2 linked regions of the Homo sapiens genome follow. The protein of the gene in region 1 interacts with the protein of each later gene in a pairwise test. Each region holds a gene or a part of one and is shown on either strand. Other genes may lie near its edges.

Region 1 (7,026 bases):
GTAGGGAGAACAACTCCCTATAAAGGAAGAGGTAGTCAGTGTGGTGAGTGGATGGGGTCTCAGGGAAAATGAAATCCCTAGCAGTCGGTGTCAGGGCAGCAGGTCACTAATTGAGTGCAAACCTTTTTTAAAATGTTGTTTATCCCCTACAGGGCATACAAAACCATTGAGGATGAGGACTTGAAGTTCCCCCTTATATATGGAGAAGGCAAGAAGGTAGGCACGTGTGCTTCCCCTGGGTAGAGAGGACAGGGCTCTGTCCCGCCTTCGCTCCACATAGCCCGTGGCAGTCCGTGTGTTCCACTCAGCAGCTTGTGATTTTATAGCCTTGACAGCTTGAAAGCATATCCCATCCATCATCCTTCAGGCCTCCTGTCTTCAGGGTCCAAGGAGTAGTGGGGGTGGGAGGTGGGCGGTGAGCACAAGGGACTCAAGCCAATTTTGTGAAAATAAAGTCCCCCTTCCCAATCCATTTGAATAACTTTTTACAGTGTTTAAACATGAACCACTTTCACACACATCATCTCATTTATATCTGACAACGAGCAAGGAGGCAGGTCAAGCTGGCTGTGTTATATCCATCTGGCAGACGAGGCAGCTGGGACTGTGAGGTTAAAACAGCTCAGGCAGATCACGCAGCCAAGCGAGGGGCAGCTGCGGATGTGGTGCCTTGGCTTTCTGTCTGCTTCGCGCGTCTCAGACTCCACCATGGAAGTCCAGACTTTGCAAGTCTGTTTGCCACTTGCCCCATGGAAGAGAGTCCAAAGCGTCACTGTAATTAGACTATAAGGTCACAGCAACCAGAGTCCAGACTAAGATAACAAAGACCATCATCAGCTCCCAGGGTTCCAGTCAGAATCCAGCACTGAACAGCACGTTGTCGAACCAAAGAAAAGCTGTGGATCCTAAAGTGGTCTCTGAGCAGAGGCCTGGAGGAGGTTGAAATCCTGGAGTGGAGAGCAAGAAGCTTGGAATCTATTTCCTAGTAAGAACAAACACCTTCTGAATCATTGCATTCTTCCTCGGAACACTAATACATTTCAACTCGGTGTGAAGCATTCCAAGTGAAAAATGTGGTCACATTGAGAAGAGTCTTCAACTGATAATTTTTCCAGCATTCGATACGATAGTTTTTATCAAGAAGAAATGACTCAGAAGAAAACCAAAGGATGCCTTCCATGGGCAGAGTGTGTGTGTGTGTGTGTGTGTGTGTGTGTGTCAGAGCAAAAGCAAGAGAACAAACATGGTTAGGTTTTGGGCTCCGTGTAGACCAGCAGTGATTTCAATGCAAAAAGACATCTCAACAGAAGGAGGAATACCAAACACAAATATCTGATCCATGTAGGAATCATTTTTTAAACGAACATACCCCATTCATGAAAATGAACACCTTTCAGATCACAGTCTCTGGTTAAGAATCGTGTCAGGGCTAATAGGCACTGTTCTGATATAAATATTTGTGCCTTTTGGTACAATGGGCACCATTAATGAGTATCATTCAGCCCAATGACCTATGCCTGCAGCTCCATTTCTTTGTGGGGCTGAGATTCTCTGTATTACCCTTTAATATCCAGTGAGTTCCAGTAAACTCAGGAACACATTCTGTTACCCCTGTATCTCTAGTTCCTGTCTAGCCTGGTACCTGACATAAATGCATAAGTATTAAATAAGCTGTTCAGTTATGTTCAGTATACTTTCCTTAGTACAATAGGAAAATGGAATGATGTATTCTTGGAAGTTTATAGCAGTAAGATTTGAAGGAGCAAGAGTTTTCTAATTTTAGTATAAAGTTCAATTCACCAAAACATCATGTTCCTCAAGCATTTCAGGTAATTTAAGCTTGATGGTCTTGCGATGGGCAGGTGGCAAGTTCTGTCCGTGTACCTGTTGGCCTATTTAAAAGCCACCATGTCTCCATTTTGCTTTTGTTGGTAGATACCACCCCTTTCTGAGGACTCCATGAGTTCTTGGAGCTCCTTCTAGATCCTGGACTGGGATTTTCTCTTTCTTCTCCGCGTACCCCTACGCAGAAATTTCAGAGTACTTCTGTGGCCATTACTTCTCATTTTCTTTCTTCAGATGCTTTTAAAGACTGGTGTGGGTAACACCTGGATACTTCGTAAACAAGGTCAGTCACTAGCAGAAACATCAGATTTCTTTGGCTGGAAAGAGCACACAGAGAAGCCGCCATTTCAGGGAGGAGAGCAGGAGAGCCACAAGGGACTCAGAATTTTTCACATTTAGAGTTGAGCACTTCTTGGCTAGAAGGGAGCCAGTCCAGCCTCCCAGCAGGGCAGAGGGCCCCAGGCTTTGCTTTGCATCACTTTTTTTTTTTTTTTTTGAGACATGGCATCAGGCTGGAGTACGGTGGCACAATCTCGGCTCACTTCAGGCTCGACATCCCAGGATCAGGTGATCCTCCCACTTCAGCCTCCTGAGTAGCTGGGACTACAGGCGCATGCCACCACACTGGCTAATTTTTGTATTTTTTGTAGTCAGGAGGTTTTACCACATTGCCCTGGCTAGTCTCAAACTCCTGGGCTCAAGTGATCCTCCTGCCTTGGCCTCCCAAAGTGCTGGGATTACACATGTGAGCTACTGTGTCTGGCTGTGTCTCGTGTCTTTATCCCCTCTGACCCTTGCCCTCAAAAAGGTGTCATGGTTTCATTTCTGCTTAATGTGAACTCTGCCTACCTTCCGAACCAAGGCTGGCTTCAAAATTCACAGCCCTGTTGACAGTCTAGGATGAAGATGAAGACAATATATTAAATTGCAGTGTTTCTTAGCATTTATTTACTTCATCCCCACTCATAGGAGGTAATTACTCTTATCACCCAGGTAATAGAGTGAGGATTCAAGCTCAGGTCTTTGAACCATTTCACTACACCGGATATATTTTTTATGATTAAGGGTTAGGACACTGCTTTCTTCCACCCAGGATGACTTTCACTCCATCCCTCTGTGTCGCCTGTCTTGATGCAATCCACCTTTCTGTGCTAAGTGCCACCTCCTCCGTGGAGCCTTCTCAGTAGAATTTTTACCTCCTCTAAACTTGCATAACCCATTGTCTATGTGTTTTTCAGTACTTAACCATATTTTATGTGTTATTAATTACACATCTCCCTCTTATCTCCCTTACCAAGTTTCTTTTTGGTTTTTTTATTTGTTTGTTTGTTGGTTTGAGACTGAGTCTCACTGTGTCACCCAGGCTAGACTGCAGTGGCATGATCTCAATTCACTGCAACCTCCACCTTCCAGGTTCAAGTGATTCTCATGCCTCAGCCTCCAAGCAGCTGGGATTACAGGTGCCCACCACCATGCCTAGCTAAATTTTGTATTTTTCGTAGAGATGGGGTTTCACCATGTCAGCCAGGCTGGTCTCAAACTCCTGACCTCAAGTGATCCACCTGCCTCAGCCTCCCAAAGTGCTGGGATTACAGGCAAGAGCCACCGCACGTGGCCCCAAGTTTCTTTGTAGTAGGGACGAGGCCTTAGACATTTGTGTCCCCAACATATGATGTAAGTACATAGTAGGCACCCAATAAATGTTTGGGTAAATCAGATCTTCAGCATAACAGGAGATATTTAAGCTGACTGTGTAGGCATTGGTGTAATAGTGTTACTTCCTTACACCATTCAAAAACAGTTCAGGATGAGGTCTCAGCCCTGAGGCCTCTGTGTAGCTATGTCACAGCACTGGTGACATTTTGTTCCTTTCCACCCAGAGGGAATTTGTGGAGATCTTAGCAGGATAGGTTATAGAGTTGATAAGTTTCTTTTCTCCAGCCATAAAACATAATAGGTGAACTCTGGGAGGGCAAGAGCTATTTCTGATTTTTTACACCTTTTACTAGTACATATCACAGGACTAAGGACATAGCTGGTGTTGAGCAAATACTTGTACAGTGGATATGTAACAGAAAGATTGGTGGGTGTGTGGATGGGTGGGTGGATGGATGGATGGATGGATGGATGGATCGATCAATCCTATTGGGTTTGATATGAACTGATTTCTGCAGCTGTAGACGTCACGCATGCATTGGAGTTAGTTTATTGGACATCCTTCCTTCCAGTCTCCAAAAAAAGAAAGCTGAAAAGAAACAGCAGCAACCTGTCAAGCTTAAGATAATGGATAGAAAAAGCACTCCTCAAATACAGAAGTGATTTTGGTGAGCCCTTTCTTGGTAAGAGCTATCCACGTATGTTAGCAGCAAGGGGCCTGGAAACATATCTGGGCAGGAGGAACTGGAAAATTGTTTGGTTGTTCCTAGCCCAGGCAGCTGCACTGGAATGGGATGCTTTCACTGTGTGCGTGTTTCTGATGACCCTCTGCTTATACTCCTAGGCCCGGGTAATGGCAACTATTGGAGTGACCAGGGGACTTGGGGACCATGACCTGAAGGTGCATGACTCCAACATCTACATTAAACCATTCCTGTCTTCAGCTCCAGAGGTACCGCATGAGGTTTTTGTTTATATTTTGTGCAATAAAACATTTTCGGCGTTATTCCTCCTGTGACTCACACCCCATATCCAGACAGTAGCCAACTTGTATTATATGTACTTCCACTGTATCTCTCACGTCTGTGTCTTTTTCCCACTCCATTCTCACTTTGACTCTTCTGGTTCACACCTTCATCACCTCTTACCCAGATGGCTGCACAGCCTCCTCCTGACATTTTCTAAGTCTGCCAATCCATGCTACTTATTGCAGTCAGGTAAATTTTCCTTAAAAACTGACTCCTAATTGCTCAGAAACCTTCAATGGCAGCCCAGGCATGGAGAGTAAAGCTCAGACTCCCATTCACTTGGTGTTCAAGGCTTATTATAATTTGGTCTGGACTTCTCTGATCTTTGTTCTCCTGCACCAGCCAGAATGAACTTGCTGTTTCCCTTACATGACCTTAGGTTTCCCATATTTGCTTAAACTATTCCTTTTGCCAAGAATGCCCTTTCTCCCCAACTCCAAACATCCAAATTCTTTTTTTCTCTGGAGTTTAGCTTAGATGCTTTTTTATGGAGAGTTCCCTGATTTCTTCCTTGCCCAACCAGAAGTAATGTCTCTCCCTACTTGGGATATACATAGAGCACCTTCCACGTACAGTGTTTTCACTGTCTGCCTTCGGTCACAGTTGTTTTGTTTTGTTTTGTATTTTGAGACAAAGTCTCGCTCTGTCGCCCAGGCTGGAGTGTAGTGGCATGATATCGGCTAACTGCAACTTCTGTCTCCTGGGCTCAAGTGATTCTCCTGTCTCAGCCTCCCGAGTAGCTGGGACTACAGGCACACACCACCATACCCAGCTAATTTTTGTATTTTTAGTAGAGACAGGGTTTCTCTATGTTGGTTAGGCTGGTGTTGAACTCCTGACCTCAAGTGATCCACCCGTCTCAGCCTCCCTAAGTGCTGAGATTATAGGCGTGAGCTACCACACCTGGCCTGATCATAGTTATTTATGTATACCTTATCCCCTCGTTAGACTAATTACCTGAAGAGCTTCTGTCATTCAGCTGATGTTTAGAGAAGTTAATTTACAAACAAGTTGGTCATATATTTGGTTTAAAAAAAATCATGTGTCTTACCATATAGGAAACAGTATCGATTTCTATGTTGACTTTCTGGATATATCATTTAGAAATTTTTTTGCTTCCAAATTTGGAAAAGTCTAACCGATAGTATTAGGTTGGTGCAAAAGTAATTACAGTTTTTGCCATTTTTTTTTTTTAATTACTTTTGCAACAGCCTAAGAGTTTAAAGGTAAATTTTTCTCACCCAGTAAGAAGGCTGAAATCTGGTGGCTGCTGGCGTTGGTTCAGCACCTCCATTGTGTCAGGGCTGTAGCGTCTCTGCATTTCTTTGACTTTCCCTTCATGGTTACAAGGTGGTGGCAGTAGGTCCAAGCCTGACATTTCTATGCAAAGATGGAAAGGAGGGGCAGCCTCTGTCCCAACAGATATTCACTTGCCTCTCATTGGCCAGAACTGTGTTACATGACCTTCTAGCTGCAAGGGAGTTTGGGAGAGCAAGAGTTTTAACTCTCCCAATTTCGATAGTAGAAGGAAATCAGGAAGGCATAAGTCAGGAACCAATAGCATTTACTACAATGTGTAATTAAGGTTTTTTGTTTCTTTTTTTTTTTTTTTTTGAGATGGAGTCTCACTCTGTTGCCCAGGCTGGAGTGCAGTGGTGCAATGTTGGCTCACTGCACCCTCCACCTCCCAGATTCAAGTGATGCTCCTGCCTCAGCCTCCCAAGTAGCTGGGATTACAGGTGGGCACCACCATGCCTGGCTAATTTTTGTATTTTTAGTGGAGACAGGGTTTCACCATGTTGGCCAGGCTGGTGTTGAATTCCTGAGCTATAGTGATCCACCTGCCTCGGCCTCCCAAAGTGCTGGGATTGCAGGCATCAGCCACTGCGGCTTGCCTGTAATTAAGCATTAAAATAATTCCTTGGACTGGAAATGCTCAGAACATTTAGACATAACTCTATTTGCATGTACTTCCCAAGAGCAGGTGCTGTTTTAACAAAGACTATTTTGGTCAGAGGAAACAGAAACTTACTAGAGCTAACTCAAAAAAAAAAAAAAAAGTACTGCAAGAAGGCCGGCTATGGTGGCTCATACCTGTAATCCCAGCACTTTGGGCGGCTAAGGCAGGAGGATTGCTTGAGACCAGCATGGGCAACATAGCAGGACCCTTGTTCTTACAAAAAGTAAAAAATTAGTTTGATGTGGTGGCACATGCCTGCCCCAGCTACTCAGAAGGCTGAGGTGAGAGGATTGCTTGAGCCCAGGAGCTCGAAGTTGCAGTGAGCCATGATTGTGCCATGACACTCCAGCCTGGGTGGCAGAGTGAGACGCTGACTCAAAAAAACAATAGTAATAATATTAGAAGAGATATTTATGGTGTCCATGAGCAGAATGATTGAACAGCCAGGCTTTATGGGAAAGTGGTTTTGAAATCAAGGCAGCCCTGCAAAGCCTCCACAGCGGAAAGCTCTCAGCCCTCACATGGAGTTCTGCCACT
Region 2 (7,026 bases), on another chromosome or scaffold:
TGCATCGCCACACCCGGCTAATTTTAGTAATTTTAGTAGAGACAGGGTTTTGCCATATTGGCCAGGCTGGTCTCGAACCCCTGACCTCATGTGATCCACCCACCTCAGCCTCCCAAAGTGCTGGCTTTACAGGCGTGAGCCACCACATGCGGTATAATTTTTCTTTGTTAAGCTTGTGATTCTACTAAGGGTATCGTCCTTGCAACAAAAGAGTTGTTTCCTCCCTAATCCCACCTTTGTCTACCCCCTTTTAAACTGTCATTGACCCTTGAACTGCAGGTTCACTTACACATGGATATTTTTGTTTAAAGAGATGGGGACTCGCAGTGTTGCCCAGGCTGGTCTCAAACTCCAGGGGTCAAGTGATTCTTCCTTCTCAGCCTCCCAAGAAGCTGGGATTACAGGTGTGTGCCACCACACCCAGCTCTATAAACAGGTTTTTAAAAACAAATCTTTTGGAAAAAATGTTAGAGACTTGCAACAACTTGAAAAACTCACAGACAAGCCACATAACCTAGAAATATTGGGCGGGGGGGAAATTAAGAAAAAGTTAAGTATATTATGAATGTCTAAAGTATATGTAGATACTAGTCTATTTTATTACTACCATAAAACATACACAGATCTATTATTAAAAGTTTAAATTTATTAACACTCAAACACACAGAGCCCATACAAGGCACCTTTTGCATCAAGAGAAATGTAACAGAGATGCAGTATTAAATCATAATTGCATAAAAATAACTAATACATACTGTACTACTGTGATAATTTTGTAGCCACCTCCTGTTGCTATTTTGGTGAGCTCGTATGTTTCCAAGTGTCTGCTTAAAACACCATGTGATGTGGATCATCTCCCCGTGAACAGTTTGTGTCTCCAGTAAATCCCATATTGCAATCAAAAGAGGTCTTTTGTGGTTCTTGCGTGTTTTCATCGTGTCTAGTGCAATACCATAAACCTTGAATAACACCATCAGACCTATACAAAGTGCCACTAGTGATGCCAGAAGCAATCCTGAGAAACAGAAAAGTCATGACATTACAAGAAAAAATTGAATTGCTTAATATGTACTGTAGAATGAGGTCTGCAGCTGTGGTTGCCCGTTATTTCAAGATAAATTAATCCAGCATAAGGACCATTTTAAATAAAAGAAAATTTGTGAAGCCATCACTGCAGCCACAGCAGGAGGTGTGAAACCTTGCACTTTTTACAGAATACCTTTTTATCTCATGTTGAAAATGCAGCTCTTATGTGGGTACAGGATTGCTATAAGAAAGGCATACTTGTAGGCTGGGCGCGGTGGCTCACGCCTGTAATCCCAGCACTTTGGGAGGCCAAGGCGGGCAGATCACGAGGTCAGGAGATCGAGACCATCCTGGCTAACACGTTGAAACCCCGTCTCTACTGAAAATACAAAAAATTAGCCAGGCGTGGTGGCGGGCGCCTGTAGTCCCAGCCACTCGGGAGGCTGAGGCAGGAGAATGGTGTGAACCCGGGAGGCAGAGCTTGCAGTGAGCTGAGATCACACCACTGCACTCCAGCCTGGGCGACAGAGCGACTCTGTCTCAAAAAAAAAAACAAAAAAAAAGGGCATACTTGTAGACTATGATATTCAAGAAAAAGTGAAGTTATTATATGACAACTTAAAGCAAAACGGAAGAGAAGCTAGAGGAGTTAATGCCAGCAAAGAATGGTTTGATAATTTTAGAAAGAGGCTTGGCCTAAAAATGGCAGGCTAACAGGAGAAGCAGCTTCTGCTGACTAAGACACAGCAGACAAGTTCCTGGGCACCGCTGAACAAGTCTTTAATGCAGTTAAAAGTGTCCTATTCTCGGGGTGGCAGGGAGGGGGGCAGGCCACAAAGGACATGAGTGTTAGGAAAAGAAGAAAGCACAGGGAATTAAGGCAGGAAGGGATAGGCTAACTACTGTTCTGTGCAAATGCAATTGGGTTTATGATCAGGACTGACTGCCCTTACGTATAAAGTTGCTAACCCCCAAGACCTGAAGGGAAAAGTCTTTTGAAGCTGCCAGTTTTTTGATCATTCAACAAGAAGACCTGAACACTGAGAATCCTTTTTCTGGATTGGTTCCATCAATACTTTGTCCCTGAAATCAGGAAATACCTTGCCATTATGGGACAGCCCTTTAAAGTTCTTTTGATGTTGGACAGTGCCCCTGGCCACCCAGAACCCCATGAGTTTAACACCGAAAACATTGAAGTGGTCTACTTGCCCCCGAACACAGTCTCTAATTCAGCATCTAGATCAGGGGATCATGAGGACCTTTAAGGTTAATAACACACGGTACTCTAACCTCAATAGAACATCATGAAAATCTGGAGGAATTACACCGCTGAAGATGCCATCGTTATAGAAAAAGCCATGAAAGCCATCAAGCACAAAACAGTAACTTCCTGCTGGAGAAAACTGTGTACCGATGTTGAGCATGATTTCACAGGATTTGTAGCAGAGCCAGTCAAGGAATTTATGAAAGAGACTGTGGATAAGACAAGAGCTAATAGACATCAACCAGAGGAATCAACAGAAGATGATTTAATGAAGATGCCGGTGCTTCCAAACCAGCGTTGGACGATAAGGAAGAAGGCAAAGAAGTAGTGCCAGAAAACAAATTGACTGTAGACAATCTGGCAGAAGGGTTCTGATTATTCAAGACTGCTTTAGACTTACTGTACAACATGGACCATTGTGTGATACAGGCACTGAAACTGAAGCAAATGATGAAAGAAGGATTGGTTTTGTATAGAAATATTTTTAAAGAAATGAAAAAGCAAAAAAGAAATTACAATGTTTTTCCGTAAAGTTAAACTGAGTGTGCCTGCCTCCCCTTCCACCTTCTCTACCTCTTCTGCCTCTGCCTTCCCTGAGACAGCAAGACCAACCCCCTCCTCTTTCTCCTCCTCAGCCTACTCAATTTGAAGACATTGAGGATGAAGACCTTTATGATGATCCACTTCCACTTAATGAATAGTAAATATATTTTTCTTCCTTATGATTTTCTTAATAACATTTTCTTTTCTCTAACTTTATGGTAAGAATACAGTATAGAATACATATATAAAATATGTTAATCGACTGTTACTGATAATACTTCTGGTTAGCATCAGGCTGTTACTAATTAAGTGTTTGGGGAGTAAAAGTTATACATGGTATACCCTTACCCCCATTGTTCAAGGGTCAACTGTATGTTGTTTTAAATCAGCATATTTTATAACTTTCCTAGTTTTTTTTTTTCTTATAGCTACAGGAAATGAAGTAACCGCAGCCATTTGGCAGTTTTGTTGCTGTTGTTTTTCTTATTGTTGTTGTTGCTTTTTTTTTTTTTTTTTTTTTTTTTTTTGAGACAGGTTCTTGCTTTGTTGCCCTGGCTGGAGTGCAGTGGCAGTGATAATAGTTCACTCCAGCCTTGAGCTCTTGGGCTCAAGTGCTCCTCCTGCCTCAGCTTCTTAAAGTGTTGGGATTACAGGCATGAGCCCCCGTGCTCAGCCTATTGTTGTTTTTGAATACTTTTTAAAATTGTGGTGAAATACATACAACATGAAATTTTCATTTTAACTATTATTTTGGTGTATAGTTCAGTGGTGTTAAGTACATTCTACTGTTGTGCAACCGTCACCACCATCCATTTCCAGAACTTTTTCATCTTTCTGAACTCAAGCTTTGCATCCATTAAACAATGATTTCTGTCTCCCCCTTTCCCCATCTCCTGGCAACTGTCACCATTCTATTTTCTATGAATTTGACTGTTATAGGTACCTCATATAAGTGGAATCATATAGTATTTGTTCAATTTGTAAGTAATTTACTTCATTTAACATAAAGTTTTCAAGGTTCATCTACATTGTAGCATGTGTCAGAACTTGTTTATTTTTTGAGGCTGAATAATATTCCATTGTTTTTATATGCCATGTTCTGTTTATTCATTCACCCATTGTTGGATATGTGGGTTGTTTTCACCCTTTTACTATTGTGAATAATGTTGCTGTGAACACTGGTGTACAAATATCTGAGTCCCTGCTTTAAATTCTTCTGCGTGTATACCCATGAGTGGAATTGCTGGATCATATGATAATTCTGTGTGTAACCTTTTGAGGAATCACCAGACTTTTCCACAGTGATTGCACCATTTTACATTCCTACCAACAGTACACAAAGGTGTCGGTTTCTCCACATCCTCGCCAATATGTGTTTTCTGTTTTTTTAATAGTAGCCATACTAATGGGTATGTAGTGGTATCTCTCATTGTGGTTTTTGATTTGCATTTCCTAATCTTAGTGATATTGAGCATCTATTCATGTGCATATTGTTTGTTTGTATATCTTCTTTGAAGAAATGTCTATTCAAATCCTTTGCTTGCTTTTTTTTTTTTTTTTTTTTAAATTTTTTCCAGACAGGTTCTTGCTCTGTTCCCCAGGCTGGAGTACAGAGGCATGATGATCATGGCTCACTGCAGCCTCAACTTCCCAGGCTCAAGTGATTCTCCTACCACAGCCTCCTAAGTAGCTGGGACTACAGGCACACACCACCGTGCCTGGCTAATTTTTAAATTTTTTGTAGAGATGAGGTCTCACAGTGTTACTCAGGCTAGTCTCGAACTCCTGGGCTCAGGCAATTTTCCTGACAGCCTCCCAAAGTGCTGTCATTTTTTGTTGTTGTTAGGAGTTTTAGGTGTTTTTTATATATTCTAGGTATTATTCCCTTTCAAATACATGATTTACAAATATTTCCTCCTTTTTGTGGGTAGTCTTTTCATTCTCTTGATAGCGTCCTTTGTTGCACAGTAGTTTTTAACTTTGATGAAGTACAGTTTAACTACTTTTTCTTTTATTGCCTGTGCTTTTGGTATCATGTCAAAGAAACCATTGCCAAATCCAGTGTCCTGAAGCTTTTCCCTATGTTTTCTTCTAAGAGTTTTATAGTTTGAGGTCTTTGATCTAGTTCAAGTTAATTTTTTTATATGGTTTAAAATAAGGATCCAGCTTCATTGTTTTGCATGTGGATATCTGGTTTTCCTAGTGCTATTTATTGAAAAGACTGTCCTTTCCCTATTGACTGATTTTGGCATCCTTGTCGAGGGTCATTTGACTAAGTATGTGAGGATTTATTTCTGGGCTCTCTATTCCATTCCATTAGTCTGTGTATCTGTCTTTATGCCAGTTCCACACTTTTTGATTTGCAGTAAGTTCTGAAATTTGACTCCCCCAGCTAATATTATTTTGGCTGGGCTCAGTGGCTCATGCCTGTAATCCTAGCTCTTTGGGAGGCCGATGGGGGTGGATCACTTGAGGCCAGGAGTTCGCGATCAGCCTGGCCAACATGGCAAAACCCCCCATCTCTACCAGAAAACTACAAAAATTAGCTGGCATGGTAGTACACACACCTGTAGTCCCAGCTACTCACAGCTACTCAAGAGGCTAAGGCAGGAGAATCGCTTGAACTCGGGAGGCGAAAGTTGCAGGAAGCCCAGATCACACCACTGCACTCCAGCCTGGGCAACAGAGCAAGGCTCTGTCTCAAAAAGAGAGATTCTTTTGATGTTAGATTCCATATGAATTTTTGGATAGATCTTTCTATTTCTGCAAAAATTGTCATTGGGATCTTAAGGGGACAACCACTTGTTTTTAACTGATTTTTCTGCATGGACCTCCTTGTGCCATAGCAGCACAGCTATTTGAGAGTTTAAGGCTCTATAAAATGTTTAATTAAGGCTTCTATAGGGTAGTATGCATTATAAAATCTGAAATGATCCAGCCTGGATTTAGATTATGCAAGTTTCTTTGCTTGTATCTTCTCTTTTGGTAAGAAAGAACATACCTAGAAAGTAGACAGCCTCCTTTAGGGAGGAAATAGTATTTGACATGGATATGTCTTGGGAATTGCGTTTCTTTTGCTAGGTAATCTAAGAATTTGTGTAGGCTTTTAGTATGGAGTAGTTTTAGGGTGACTGCTTTAAAACTTCAAAGCTATAGAAATGACCCTCTAAATTGAGAGAATAAAGTCACTTTTAAAGACTGTTAAGCCGTAATTCATGGTAGTATGTAAAAGTAAAATTTTATTTCATTTTAGCATGCCAATGAAGATGTGGAAAGAATGTTACTAGGAAACAAGTGTGATATGGACGACAAAAGAGTTGTACCTAAAGGAAAAGGAGAACAGGTAAAAATCTGAATTAAACTGATACTCTGCTCTGTCTTTGTAAAGGTAATGCTACTTTTGATTATTTTTATAGTAATAGTGATCGAACACACTAAGCTAATTACATAGTTTTTAAAATGCTTGTTGGAAATAATATTTTATCATTTGAGTGAATTTTTTTTCAGTGCATATTTAACATGTATGGGAGAATCAAATGTGCCCATAGTATTTTTAGCCTTATTTAAACTACAAAGAGAGAAAAATATAAGTCATTAATCCTCGGTTTTTAAACTTAGGACTTTAAGGAAATGTATCAATTAGTATGGTTCTAAAATGTGACAATCAGGAGCCTATGGTGAGCAGAAATTAGACCCTGAGGAGTCAGGTTGAGCTTCTCATAAGTTTGCCCCCAGTGTGAAGTATCTGACTTAGAATATCTGAAATAAACTTTTGGGGTAAGGAGATTACTTTTCTTTTGTTTGTTTTATGAAAGAGCTTGACTTGCTGAAATATTCTGTGTTATATATTCTAGTTGGGACCACTGCCTTCAGAATAAGATTAATATTTAAGCTGTTAAAGTCAGCAGTTGGCAACCCATGCTTGATAATTTTATGATGATATTTTGTTTCTGTTTTAGATTGCAAGGGAGCATGGTATTAGGTTTTTTGAGACTAGTGCAAAAGCAAATATAAACATCGAAAAGGCGTTCCTCACGTTAGCTGAAGATATCCTTCGAAAGGTAAGTTCCTGTTTTTATATCCTGCCAGGTACCTGAGTATCTCTGTTGAATATTTTGTCTATTCTGAAGTACTGGATTTACATACAGAATTTGAGTTTGGGTGGTATTGTTTCTGTAGGGCAGCAGTCCCCA

The links.
Region 2: the proteins of PPM1H (region 1) and RAB10 interact in binary tests that used the Homo sapiens proteins (3 or more experiments, as listed by UniProt).

What each region holds. Positions count from the first base shown.
Region 1 is NC_000012.12:62,687,126-62,694,151, reverse strand, and holds part of PPM1H (protein phosphatase 1H), read left to right. Parts: intron 1-152; coding exon 153-216; intron 217-4,345; coding exon 4,346-4,453; intron 4,454-7,026. UniProt on the Homo sapiens protein: Dephosphorylates CDKN1B at 'Thr-187', thus removing a signal for proteasomal degradation.
Region 2 is NC_000002.12:26,121,058-26,128,083, forward strand, and holds part of RAB10 (ras-related protein Rab-10), read left to right. Parts: intron 1-6,086; coding exon 6,087-6,176; intron 6,177-6,792; coding exon 6,793-6,894; intron 6,895-7,026. UniProt on the Homo sapiens protein: The small GTPases Rab are key regulators of intracellular membrane trafficking, from the formation of transport vesicles to their fusion with membranes.